Linked DNA regions of Homo sapiens: region 2 is linked to region 1. Evidence: fine-mapped expression QTL. Tissue or cell type: whole blood. Region 1 holds a variant in brackets; the other region holds the start of a gene. All regions are shown on one strand. Distances are between the middles of the regions.

The links. PIP is the estimated chance that this variant, and not a neighbour inherited with it, causes the effect.
Region 2: DUSP18 starts here. The variant in region 1 is fine-mapped to the expression of DUSP18 in whole blood (TOPMed, PIP above 0.99).

What each region holds. Positions count from the first base shown.
Region 1 is chr22:30,638,436-30,644,415 of GRCh38, reverse strand. All of the region lies in intron 1 of SLC35E4 (solute carrier family 35 member E4), which reads right to left. Among named protein-coding and RNA genes, the nearest start is that of SLC35E4, 5.6 kb to the right of the region's middle. The variant C/G (reference allele first, on the strand shown) is at 3,241.
Region 2 is chr22:30,665,081-30,670,546 of GRCh38, reverse strand. It overlaps DUSP18 (dual specificity phosphatase 18), which reads left to right and starts at 2,672. Exons shown (of 2, transcript NM_152511.5): 1 at 2,672-3,085. It also overlaps a transcript of SLC35E4 not described here. RefSeq lists an enhancer at 2,185-2,574.

The DNA.
Region 1 (5,980 bases):
TTGCCAAGTTAGTGGAGAGAGATGAGTAGTCGACACAGGTCCCCTCCCAGGCCTCTGTGAGCCTCTATGCATTTTCTGACACACACTTTCCAAAAAGCCACAGAGATGCTTACTCATAGGCTATGCTTAGAATAGGAAATTTTATTTCTCTCTCAATTTCATTCCGATGTTTTAGCTTTGTTCTCTAGGCAACAAACAGTCCCTCTGGCTCAAGCGTTTCTAGAAATGAACAGATAATCAGAATGCCTCCTGCTCGCAGGCTCGAAAGTTAACAGTGTTATGAGCTACCTGTGGCTTGCACATTAAACGTCCCATCACAAGAAGGCGGTTGGGTTTTCAGGTGAACTTCACCTTTGGTAAATTTCACCCTCTGCAAGGCAGCCAGGCAGGAAGGTCCTAAACTTCCCACCCATCTCCTCACACCTATTGTACATCCCACCCAATCCTCCACCTCCCCTCCCTGCAGCCCAGGGAAAGGGCAGCCATTCGCTGTCAGAGGCGGTGACTGGCTTCTACCTGGGGACCCCAAAATGTCAGCCTGTTTGTCCTGCCTCATTGCCACCTCTCCTTCTATTGGAACATGCCCAAGTTTCTGCCACATGCAGACAACAGCTGACCCTTCTCTAAACCCTGTCTGCTTGCTATTGGCTTGGCCCTTTTGCTCTTTCACGGGCTGTGTGATACTGTCTCCCTCTCTCCACGCCTCAGTCTCCTTAAGTCGTGTGGCTCGGGTAGCAACAGCCCCCTCACATGTGAGGTGCTGAACACAGGGCCTGATGCCCTGTGTGATGTCCTTGATGCCGGCTCACCCCGGCAGCTGGCATGATCCCCACACCCTGCTCCTGCTGGCTGACACCCTGTGCCCTGGCACGGCCTGTTTCCCATTCCCAGATCACCCTTTCCTCCTCCTTCAGTATGAAGAGCTGGGCATGGTGTGGGCACCTAGGGAGGCCCCAACAAATGTTTGCTCTCATGGTTACATTATTGTCATCATCATTGCATGTCTCTTCCCCTAGATAGCCTTCTCAGCGCTCCCCAGGAAGAAGCAACCGCTCCCCAACACGTGTGACCACTTTGACTCTAGAACTTCTTTTCTGCCATCATGATCTCTATATCTGAGTGCATCTCCCCCATCAGCCTGAGAGCTCAGAGGGGTTGAGTCCGCCTGCTCTGTGATGCGGACGGGCGGGGGAGTCCAGCTGAGAGCAAGCTCAGCAGGCTGGCGCCCCACTTCCCACCCTTTCTGTGGGTAGGAGGATGGCATAACCCCTCTCCTTGTGCAGGCTCCCTGGGCCTACAACTGGCCCAAGAAGGAGGGAAGTCGCTGGCCCTGCCAACAGCTGCCTGGGCTCTCCTCTTTCTGGATACTTTTTTTTTTTTTTTTTTGAGACGGAGTCTCACTCTGTCGCCCAGGCTGGAGTGTAGTAGCGCTATCTGGGCTCACTGCAAGCTCCGCCTCCCGGGTTCACGCCATTCTCCTGCCTCAGCCTCCCGACTAGCTGGGACTACAGGTGCCCACCACCACACCTGGCTATTTTTTTGTATTTTTTAGTAGAGACGGGGTTTCACTGTGTTAGCCAGGATGGTCTCAATCTCCTGACCTCATGATCCACCCACCTTGGCCTCCCAAAGTGCTGGGATTACAGGTGTGAACCACCGTGCCTGGCCTTTTTTTTTTTTTTTTTTGAGATGTTGCCCAGGCTAGAGTGCAATGGTGTGATATCTCGGCTCACTGCAACCTCCGCCTCCCTGGTTCAAGAGATTCTCCTACCTCAGCCTCCCGAGTAGCTGGGATGACAGGCATGCACCAGCATGCCCAGCTAATTTTTTTTGTATTTTTAGTAGAGACGGGGATTCACCATGCTGGCCAGGCTGGTCTCGAACTCCTGACCTCAAGTGAGCTGCCTGCCTTGGCTTCCCAAAGTGCTGGGATTACAGGCGTGAGCCACCATGCCCAGCCTTCTTTCTGGATACTTGCCCTCTGCTCCCACAAACTCTGCTCTCAGGAATGGAGCTGGCATCAGCCACGTACACTCACGTCTGAATCTGGCCCTGGTGCCTCTCCTGGAGCCTCCTGCAGTAGAAACCTTTTGTTCAAAACCTATCTCAGGCTGGGTGTGGTGGCTCATGCCCGTAATCCCAGCACTTTAGGCCGAGGTGGGTAAATCACTTGAGTCTAGGAGTTGGAGACCAGCCTGGGCAACATGATGAAACCCCATTTCTACAAAAAATACAAAAATTAGCTGGGCATGGAGGCACGCCTATAGTCCTAGCTACTCGGGAGGCTGAGGTGGGAGGATTGCCCGAGCCTGGGAAATTGAGGCCGCAGTGAGCCACTGCACTCCAGCCTGGATGACAGAGCAAGACCCTCTCATAAACAAACAAACAAACAAGCAAAAAAAGCCTATCTCAGGCCCTGGCTCAAGTCTGTTCCTCCCCATCTCTGCAGGGCTCCTATCTCTGTTAGTGGGGCCTCTAGCCCCCTAAACTCCCTCCTGAATCAGGCAGCCCAACCAGTCTATGAGATCAGCTCGCCTGTCAGAGCCATCAGTAAATCTGTCGGCATGTTGGCTCACACCTGTAATTCCAGCACTTTGGGAGGCCCGGAGGGAAGATCACTTGAGGCCAGGGGTTTGAGACCAGCCTGGGCAACATAGTGAGCCTGTTTCTAAAAAAAAAAAAAAAAAAAAAAAAAAATTAAAAATTAGCCAGGACGGTGGCATGAGCCTGTAGTCCCAGCTACTCAGGAGGCTGAGGCACAAGAATTGCTTGAAACCAGGAGGCAGAGGTTGCAATGAGCTGAGATTGCACTGCTGCATTCCAGCCTGGGCGACAGAGAGAGATTGTCTCAAAAAAAAAAATAATAAAATAAAATTTAAAAATTATAATTTACAAATTATGTATCCTCTGCAAGGCCCCAGGGCTAGGTTCCAGGAACATAGAATTGCCCCAAATCTGTCTGGCAGGCAGCAGACAGGTAACCAGGTGGTGATCATACATGGCATTTGGAACCATGATAGGGGGAGCAGAGGATACCGCAGGAGCCCAGAGCAAGGACTCAACCTCCCAGGGGTCAGGAGTTAAGACTAGGGAGGGAGGGAAGGAGGGAGCTGGCAGGAGTCAAGATGCAGCCCGATGCCAGGCACATGCCACTCCATGCCCAAGTGCCTGAGGCCTGGCCGGCCATTGCCCCTCCTGCAGGCTGGGGCTGCCTGGGTCCCAGTGTGAGAAGCACTGACT[C/G]TTTCTCAGCAGGGGCAGCATGGGCCTTGAGGTTAGGACCTTCACAGCCCTGTGGCCTGCACAGGGGTGCCCACAGGTCAGGTTTCCCAGTGCAGACTCATGCCCAGAGCTCATGCCTGTGCTCAGCCTCTAGCTCTCATGTAACCTGAGGGCAAAAAATAGAACTGGGTTTTGACCCTGCCTTGGAGCCAGGGAGGATAGAGATAGGGCCTCTGTGTCAGCTCTGAATACGCCAGGGCAGGGCTGAACTCTGACTTCAATCTTCCCTGGCTGTGGGCTGTCATCAATCCCAGCCCAGCACTCTTGGTGTGCCCACTTCCTTCTCCCAGGCCTGGGTCACAGGATCTCAGGGCGAAGGGAGAGCAAGAGGCCCCTTGGACTCCATCAACTCCAACTCTCCTCCACTGACAGATGAGGAAACTGAGGCCCAGATAAAATCCCAATATGCCCAAGGTTGCCCAGCAAATATGAGCAAAGGTATGGCTGGAACCCAGGCCTCCCCACCCTGAGTGGGCACCCTGGCCTCCCCTATGTCTCCTTGGGTTGAGGCAGAGAGAGGATAGAGGCTGCGACTCAGATGCCCCTCAGTAGGAAAGGCAGGAAGCCAGCCTTCGCCCTCAGGCAGAATGATCTAGTGGGTCTGGGCCTGGAGCCTCGGCCCTAAACTGCCCAGAGCCCTGCTGCCCTCTTTCATCAGAGCCAGCATCTGGAGTCACATAGACCATGCTTCACATCATTAGGGACCCCGTGACCTCTGTGCAAATCATGAACTTCTTTCTTTCTTTCTTCTTTTTTTTTTTTTTTTTGAGATGGAGTCTAGCTCTGTCCCTAGGCTGGAGTGCAGTGGCGTGATCTCGGCTCACTGCAACCTCTGCCTCCTGGGTTCAAGTGATTCTCCTGCCTCAGGTTCCCGAGTAGGGGGGATTACAGGCAGGCGCCACCACGCCCAGCTAATTTTTGTAATTTTAGTAGACAGGGTTTCACCACGTTGGCCAGGATGGTCTTGATCTCCTGACCTCGTGATCCTCCCACCTCTGTTGCGGGAAGTCAGGGACCCCAAACGGAGGGACCAGCTGAAGCCATTGCAGAAGAACGTGGATTGTGAAGATTTCATGGACATTTATTAGTTTCCCAAATTAATACTTTTGTAATTTCTTACGCCTGTCTTTACTGCAATCTCTGAACATAAATTGTGAAGATTTCATGGACACTTATCACTTCTCCAACCAATACCCTTGTGATTTCCTATGCCTATCTTTAATCTCTTAATCCCATCATCTTCGTAAGCTGAGGAGGCTGTATGTCGCCTCAGGACCCTGTGATGATTGCGTTAACTGCACAAATTGTAGAGCATGTGTGTTTGAACAATATGAAATCTGGGCACCTTGAAAGAACAGGATAACAGCAATGTTCAGGGAACAAGAGAGATAATCTTAAACTCTGACTGCCGGTGAGCCGGGTGGAACAGAGCCATATTTCTCTTCTTTCAAAAGCAAATGGGAGAAATGTTGCTGAATTCTTTTTCTCAGCAAGGGACATCCTTGAGAAAGAGAATGCGTCCCTGAGGGTAGGCCTCTAAAATGGCTGCTTCTGGGGGGCGGCCATCTTTTATGGTCGAAGCTGTAGGGATGAAATAAGCCCCAGTCTCCCATAGCGCTCCCAGGCTTATTAGGACGAGGAAATTCCCGCCTAATAAATTTTGGTCAGACTGGTTGTCTGCTCTCAAACCCTGTCTCTTGATAAGATGTTATCAATGACAATGCGTGCCCGAAACTTCATTAGCAATTTTAATTTCACCCCGGTCCTATGGTCCTGTGATCTGGCCCTGCCTCCATTTGCCTTGTGATATTCTATTACCTTGTGAAGCACGTGGTCTCTGTGACCCACATCCTATTGGTACACTCCCTCCCCTTTTGAAAATCACTAATCAAAACTTGCTGGTTTTATGGCTCAGGGGGCATCACGGAACCTGCCGACATATGATGTCTCCCCCGGACACCCAGCTTTAAAATTTCTCCCTTTTGTACTCTGTCCCTTTATTTCTCAGACCAGCTGACACTTAGGTAATACAGAAAAGAACCTACGTGAAATATCAGGGGTGAATTTCGCCCGATATCTGGCTGAATTTCCCCCAATACACCTCAGCCTCCCAAAGTGCTGGGATTACAGGTGTGAGCCACTGCGCTGGGCTGAACTTCTTTCTTTTTCTTGAGACAGAGTCTCATTCTGTCGCCCAGGCTGGAGTGCAGTGGTGTAATCTCAGCTCACTGCAACCTCCTTCTCCCGGGTTCAAGGAATTCTTATGCCTCAGCCTCCCCAGTAGCTGGGATTACAGGTGCATGCCACCTGGCCCGGCTAATTTTGAGACAGAGTTTCACTCTTGTTACCCAGGCTGGAGTGCAATAGCGTGATCTCAGCTCACTGCAACCTCCGCCTCCCAGGTTCAAGCGATTCTCTCACCTCAGCCTCCTGAGTAGCTGGGATTACAGGCGCCCACCATCACGCTCAGCTAATTTTTGTATTTTCAGTAGAGACAGGGTTTCCCCATGTTGGCCAGGCTGGTCTCGAACTCCTGACCTCAGGTGATCCACTTGCCTCGGCCTCCCAAAGTGCTGGGATTACAGCTGTGAGCCACTGCGCCTGGCCCAATTTTTTTTTTTTTTTTTTTTTTTTTGAGATGGAGTCTCACTCTGTCGCCTTGGCTGGAGTGCAGTGGGGCGATCTTGGCTCACTGCAACCT
Region 2 (5,466 bases), 26 kb before region 1:
ATCAGAGCAGGGAGAAATAAAAGTAAGAGTTTGGACAGATGTTAGGCTGGTTAATAGGGGAATTCCAGAAGAAGGTTTGGGGAAAATTTAGAATAGGGAGGTGTGGGGTGGACAGGGGTTTTAGGAGACTCTGAAAGGTGAGGTGAAACATGGGGTGGGGTGGGGTAGAATGGAGCTAGGTACTCCAGGTGAAAATATAACAATCTGGTCAAAATGAGGAAATGCTGAAGAGTGGATATACTTCTAAGCACTGCATTTTCACTTTTTGATAATTTGGTTACACCATGAAGTAGTCTTACAAATAAATACCTTTAAATGGTTTTGCCCATTTAAAAATAATTCTTCAGGATCAGGCACAGTGGCTGAGGCCTATAATCCCAGCACTTTGGGAGGCCAAGGTGGGCAGATCACTTGAGGTCAGGAGTTCGAGACCAGCCTGGCCAACATGGTGAAACCCCATCTCTACTAAAAATACAAAAATTAGCCGGGTGTAGTGGTGAGCACCTGTAATCCCAGCTAATCAGGAGGCTAAGGCAGGAGAATCACTGGAACCCAGGAGGCAGAGGTTGCAGTGAGCCAAGACTGTGCCACTGCACTCGGGCCTGGGCCACAGAGCTAGACTCTGTCTCAAAAAAAAAATTGTTCATATTTTCTTTCTAAAATGCGGAAACAAAATCTACAGTATGGAAGCAATTGAATAAATTTTGGTATGTCATAAAATAAAATACATGTAATTGTGTATGAAACATAGACGGGTGGTATATTAGATGGGAGAAAAAAGCAGGTTACTAAAAAGTGAACTTTTGTGATGTATCTTTTTTAAGTATAAGCATGTTGTAACATATATATATATATATATATATATATATATGAATGGATTCTGATCAAAATACACCAAAATGTTAACAGTGATTGTCCCTAGCCACTTATGCTGCTGGCCTGTCTTGTCTTCTTTTTATTTCTTCGAGACGGGGTCTCACTCTGTCCCCCAGGTTGGAGAGTAGTGGCACAATCTCAGCTCACTGCAACCTCCACATCCCAGGCTCAAGTGATCCTCCCACCTCAGCCTCCTGAGTAACTGGGACCACAGGTGAGCCACCAAGCCCGGCTAATTTTTTGTATTTTTGGTAGAGATGGGGTTTCACCCTGTTGCCCAGGCTGGTCTCGAACTCCTGAGCTCAGGTGATCCAACTGCCTCAGCGTTTCAAAGTGAAGTGGTGGGAATACAAGCGTGAGCCACCATGCCTGTCCTCATTTTTCTATAAGTGTACACTACTTTTATAATTGGGTCAAAAAAGACAACTGTAGAAGGATAAAAAATATTGAAGGACTAGTTTTTCTAATGCATTTTCAGCCTATTTGGAACTGGAGTGTTGTGAATGTTTTCATATTTACAAACTAGTATGAACAATCCAACTTCTCAATCTCTCATTTACATTTTTCTGACCTCTATGCATAGCCTAGGTGTGAGGTGATGGAAAAAGCTGGTTTAGAGATCAAGATGCTCAAACACAAAAGTCCCCCAAATCCTGAGAGTTTTTTGTTTTTTTAAAAAAATCCTTAAAACATTTAAAGACGCATAAAACTCTTCACCCACTCAGTGGTGCAAAAAATTTACCAATACTAGAAGGGGAGGAGGCTGGCAACGACTGGAAATATTCCCTTTCAAGTAATAAATAATGGTTATTTTGAACCAAATTGCTTTCCACCTCAAGTCCTCCATGGATGGGAGCCTGGAGGATGCAGTGATGGGGGTTATGGAATGGAAAGGAGCGTGGGTAATTGGGTTTGTGAGGATTGGGGCCAGGCAGAGGGAACTGGGGGCTTTTCCAGGACCACTGGGGAACACAGAGGCTGAGAAGGGGAGTGTGGGATGGGTTCGAGCTGGGGAGGACCTCGGCCTCGCCAGGCTCTAAGGAGAGTCACAGCTCACCACCTAGGGCGCTGGGACCACACGATGTCATGCCTGGGAGACTGAAGGGCTAGGACAGATTCTGAGAAAATGTGGACTGGAGATGGGGATTCCAGGTTCTCCCGGGAGTCCAGGCGAGGGAGTTCCGGCTTCAGGGAGTCCCAAGAGCTAGACTGGGAAGGGGCTGGTGCCCAGGACTATGAGAAATCCAGACTCCCCTGGGGTGTGAAAAAGGGCCGAGGTCCGGCTGAGGGAGAGCGAGTCTGAAAGAGTTCGGGCTCCCTTGCGGGTCCGAGAGTCTAACGAAGGCTCTGGGCACCCAGGCCGCACCTGAAGAGCACCAACGACTGCTCGGTCCGCGGCGCGGGAAGGAGATGTGCGGCTGAACCCCTACGCCGATTACTTAGCGGCGGCCCTATCGAGAGGGTGGTTCGAGCCCGAGGTGGCGCCGGTCCCGTAAATCGTGGAGGATCTCAGGTCCCCTGTGACCAAGGGCGTAGTCAGCTGTGTCATGGCGGCTTCCCTGTTCGAGAAACAGTTGGAAACTGGAGGCCGGTTGGGAGTCATGGTCGTTGGGCGCACGGAGGCCGGTTGGAAGCCATGGTCGTTGGGCGCCAGGAGGCCGGTTGAGAGCCGTGCTCGTTGGACGCGCGCAGACCTGGAGTTAGTCCCTGGGCGGAACCTGGAGCCCCGCGCGGCGCGTTGCCTGGGAGACGCATAAGGGGGCGGGGCCGGGGAGGGAGTGTCGCACATGCGCACAGAGCCCGGGCGGCTACGGAAGCGGTGAGACTGTCTCTCGGCTGCAGCCCTGGTGCGACCCGGCCCGTTGCCGTAGAGATGGGCAGGGCTGGATGGAGTGGGGTGCGGTGAGCTGAGCTGACCCTGCTTCGCCACGGGGACTGCAGTGACCCCGGCTTGCCGGCAGGGCGGGTAACAGGTTGAGCCAGGGTGGGGCTGCTCAGGGGCGTGGAGCCGAGGCCAGGATTTCTCTGAAGACCCGGCACAGGCTATTCCTTTCTGCGACGAGCCCATTGCTATGGAAACCAAAGCGTTAGGCCAGCGGGGATTGAGGCTGCGGGATCATGACGGGTCTCTCTCCCGAAGAACCTTGCCTAAGGCTTCCCCAAGCGGCTACTTCCTGAGCGAACCCGCCCACCCGCCTGAAGGAGAGAGGTAAAACCCTGGGGGTCCTGACACTAAGCAGGCGAAGAAGCCTATTCCAATGCCAGCTCCCCTAGGAAACCTACCCGGCCCACCCCTAGAAGTGATGCTTCGCTCTCGTTAACTCTTGGACTTTGTTCCATGTTTATAACTTAGTATTTCACGAACGCCCCGCGGTGTTTGTTCATTTTTCCCACACATAATGGACCATAAAGGTCGGCTTCTTTGCTTTATGACTCGTTCTGAACAAGTCCTTTTCCGCGCTGTGTCTCACTTTCCTCTTTTGTAAAATGGAAATATTAACTCTAGACGCCGGTCTGATTAGGTTGCTTTGAAGATCGAACCAGATGAGGGAAGCCAAATACTTCATAGGCTGTAAAGTGGTGAAGCTGAACTGCTACCGAGTTGCTATTTTTTTCTCCTCCTCCCTCTCAAGCTAAACGTTCTTTAGATCTTTTGTGATTTCTTCAGGTGGTCTTTGCGACTCCCTAGGCTCCGACCTGGAAGAAATCTTTTTTACACTTCCCTTTCACAGAGCCCTGCATTTTAACTTCCCTATCAGAAGCGAGAAAAATAGTTATCATTTTGAGAGGGCTTACTCTATGCCAAGCCCTGAGAAAACTCTTTACGTGGATTATCTCGTTTAATTTCACAACATCCTTTTAAGGTAGGTACTGTTATCCTATTTTCAAGCTCTGTCTGCCTGTAATTGCCTGTTTACTATCTGTTTCTCCCACTAGTCTTTGAGCTCCCTGAGAAAAGGGGCCATGCCTGTCTTGTACATTTCAGTATCTCCAACACCTAATACAGTGCCTGATAGAGATTGCTTTTTTTTTTTTTTTTTTTTTTTTTGAGATGGAGTCTCACGCTGTCTCCCAGGCTGGAGTGCAGTGGCACGATCTTGGCTCACTGCAGCCTCCGCCTCCCGGGTTCAAGCAATTCTCCCGTCTCAGCCTCCTGAGTAGCTGGGACTACAGGCCCATGCCACCACGCCTGGCTAATTTTTGTATTTTTAGTAGAGACGGGGGTTTCACCATGTTGGTCAGGCTGGTCTTGAACTCCTGACCTCAGGTGATCTGCCCGCCTCGGCCTTCCAAAGTGCTGGGATTATAGGCTTAAGCCACCGTGCCCAGCCCTGATAGATATTTCTTAACTAGCATGAAAATGACTCCTCGCATCACTACCCTCACCTGCAAGAGCATTGTCACTTCTGCAGACTTTTAGTGGCTATAATGAACAGCACATTCCTCTATTCCCGTTACCCACTGGGCACTGGTTTGGGGGGACATCAGTTCACTTCTCTATGGATTTTCTGATGACGAGGATCCAGAACATTCCTTAGCATTTAGACTTCCATCTGGGTTCAGGAGGCTTTTTCTTTGCCCTTCATATCACCTCTGTAGCAAGCCAGCCCTCTCTGTCCTTCCGGGAATGAGCCTGATGCATTTGAGTCTGGGGCATTGGCAGGTAGGATTTGCCTATACAACCTTTGGTCTTTCTCTTTAGTAGCCTCAGAACCACCCCCATCCCCACCCAGCCCCTCCCTGGAATTCTGGAGACACGCTGCCAGAGAACTCATTCTTTCCAGAAAACCTCTCAGAAGGCAGAGTCATAGCTGTTGGGAGTCATTTCTTCATTCAACAAATATTTATCAAGCACCTACTTGTGGGGACACAGCGCTTGGCACTAGTTGGTGATAGAGTGGGAGTGAAGACAGACACCATCATATCCCTAAAGGGCTCACAGTCTCTTGGGGAGACAGACATTAATCAAATAATCAGACAGATCGGAGCAAAACTACGTCTTCAGTAAGTGTTAGGAAGGAGAGAACATAGGGCTAAGAAAGCCTGGAGCAGAGTTGGTCAAACGTGAGGGAGGGGTGTGATCTAAGGAGATTTCCCTTAAAACAGTTACCTTTAAGTTGATATCTTAAGGCTCCTCAGACTTCTGCAGTCCTCTGCTGAATGGACCAGATCAGGATCTGATGGGTTCATAAGGAAAGAGACTGAGAGATCAGCAGGGGCAAAGGCCACTGGCTGGAGAGGACAGGTTGTCCCTAAGGAACTGTAAGTGGCTCGGTTCACCTGAGGCCCTTCAGAGCATGGAGAAGCCTAATAAGAGGCTGGAGAGACAGGCAGGAGCCAGGTCACAAATGGCCTTGACAGCCAAACTAAGTGGCTCCATCTTATCCTCACAGTGGATAGCCACTGAAATATATTAAGCAGGGAAACAAAACTTTGGCTCCTCATTTCTCGTGCCTGGTGAAGACTGCCACTTGGCCTTGAAAGGTGTGATCTAAATCCAAATGTCCCTATTTCAGCGGAATGTATAAAGATGTCCTGGTTTTTGCAGCTTTGTTTAAGACTGAGAAAGTGAGGGTCCGAGAGTCTAAT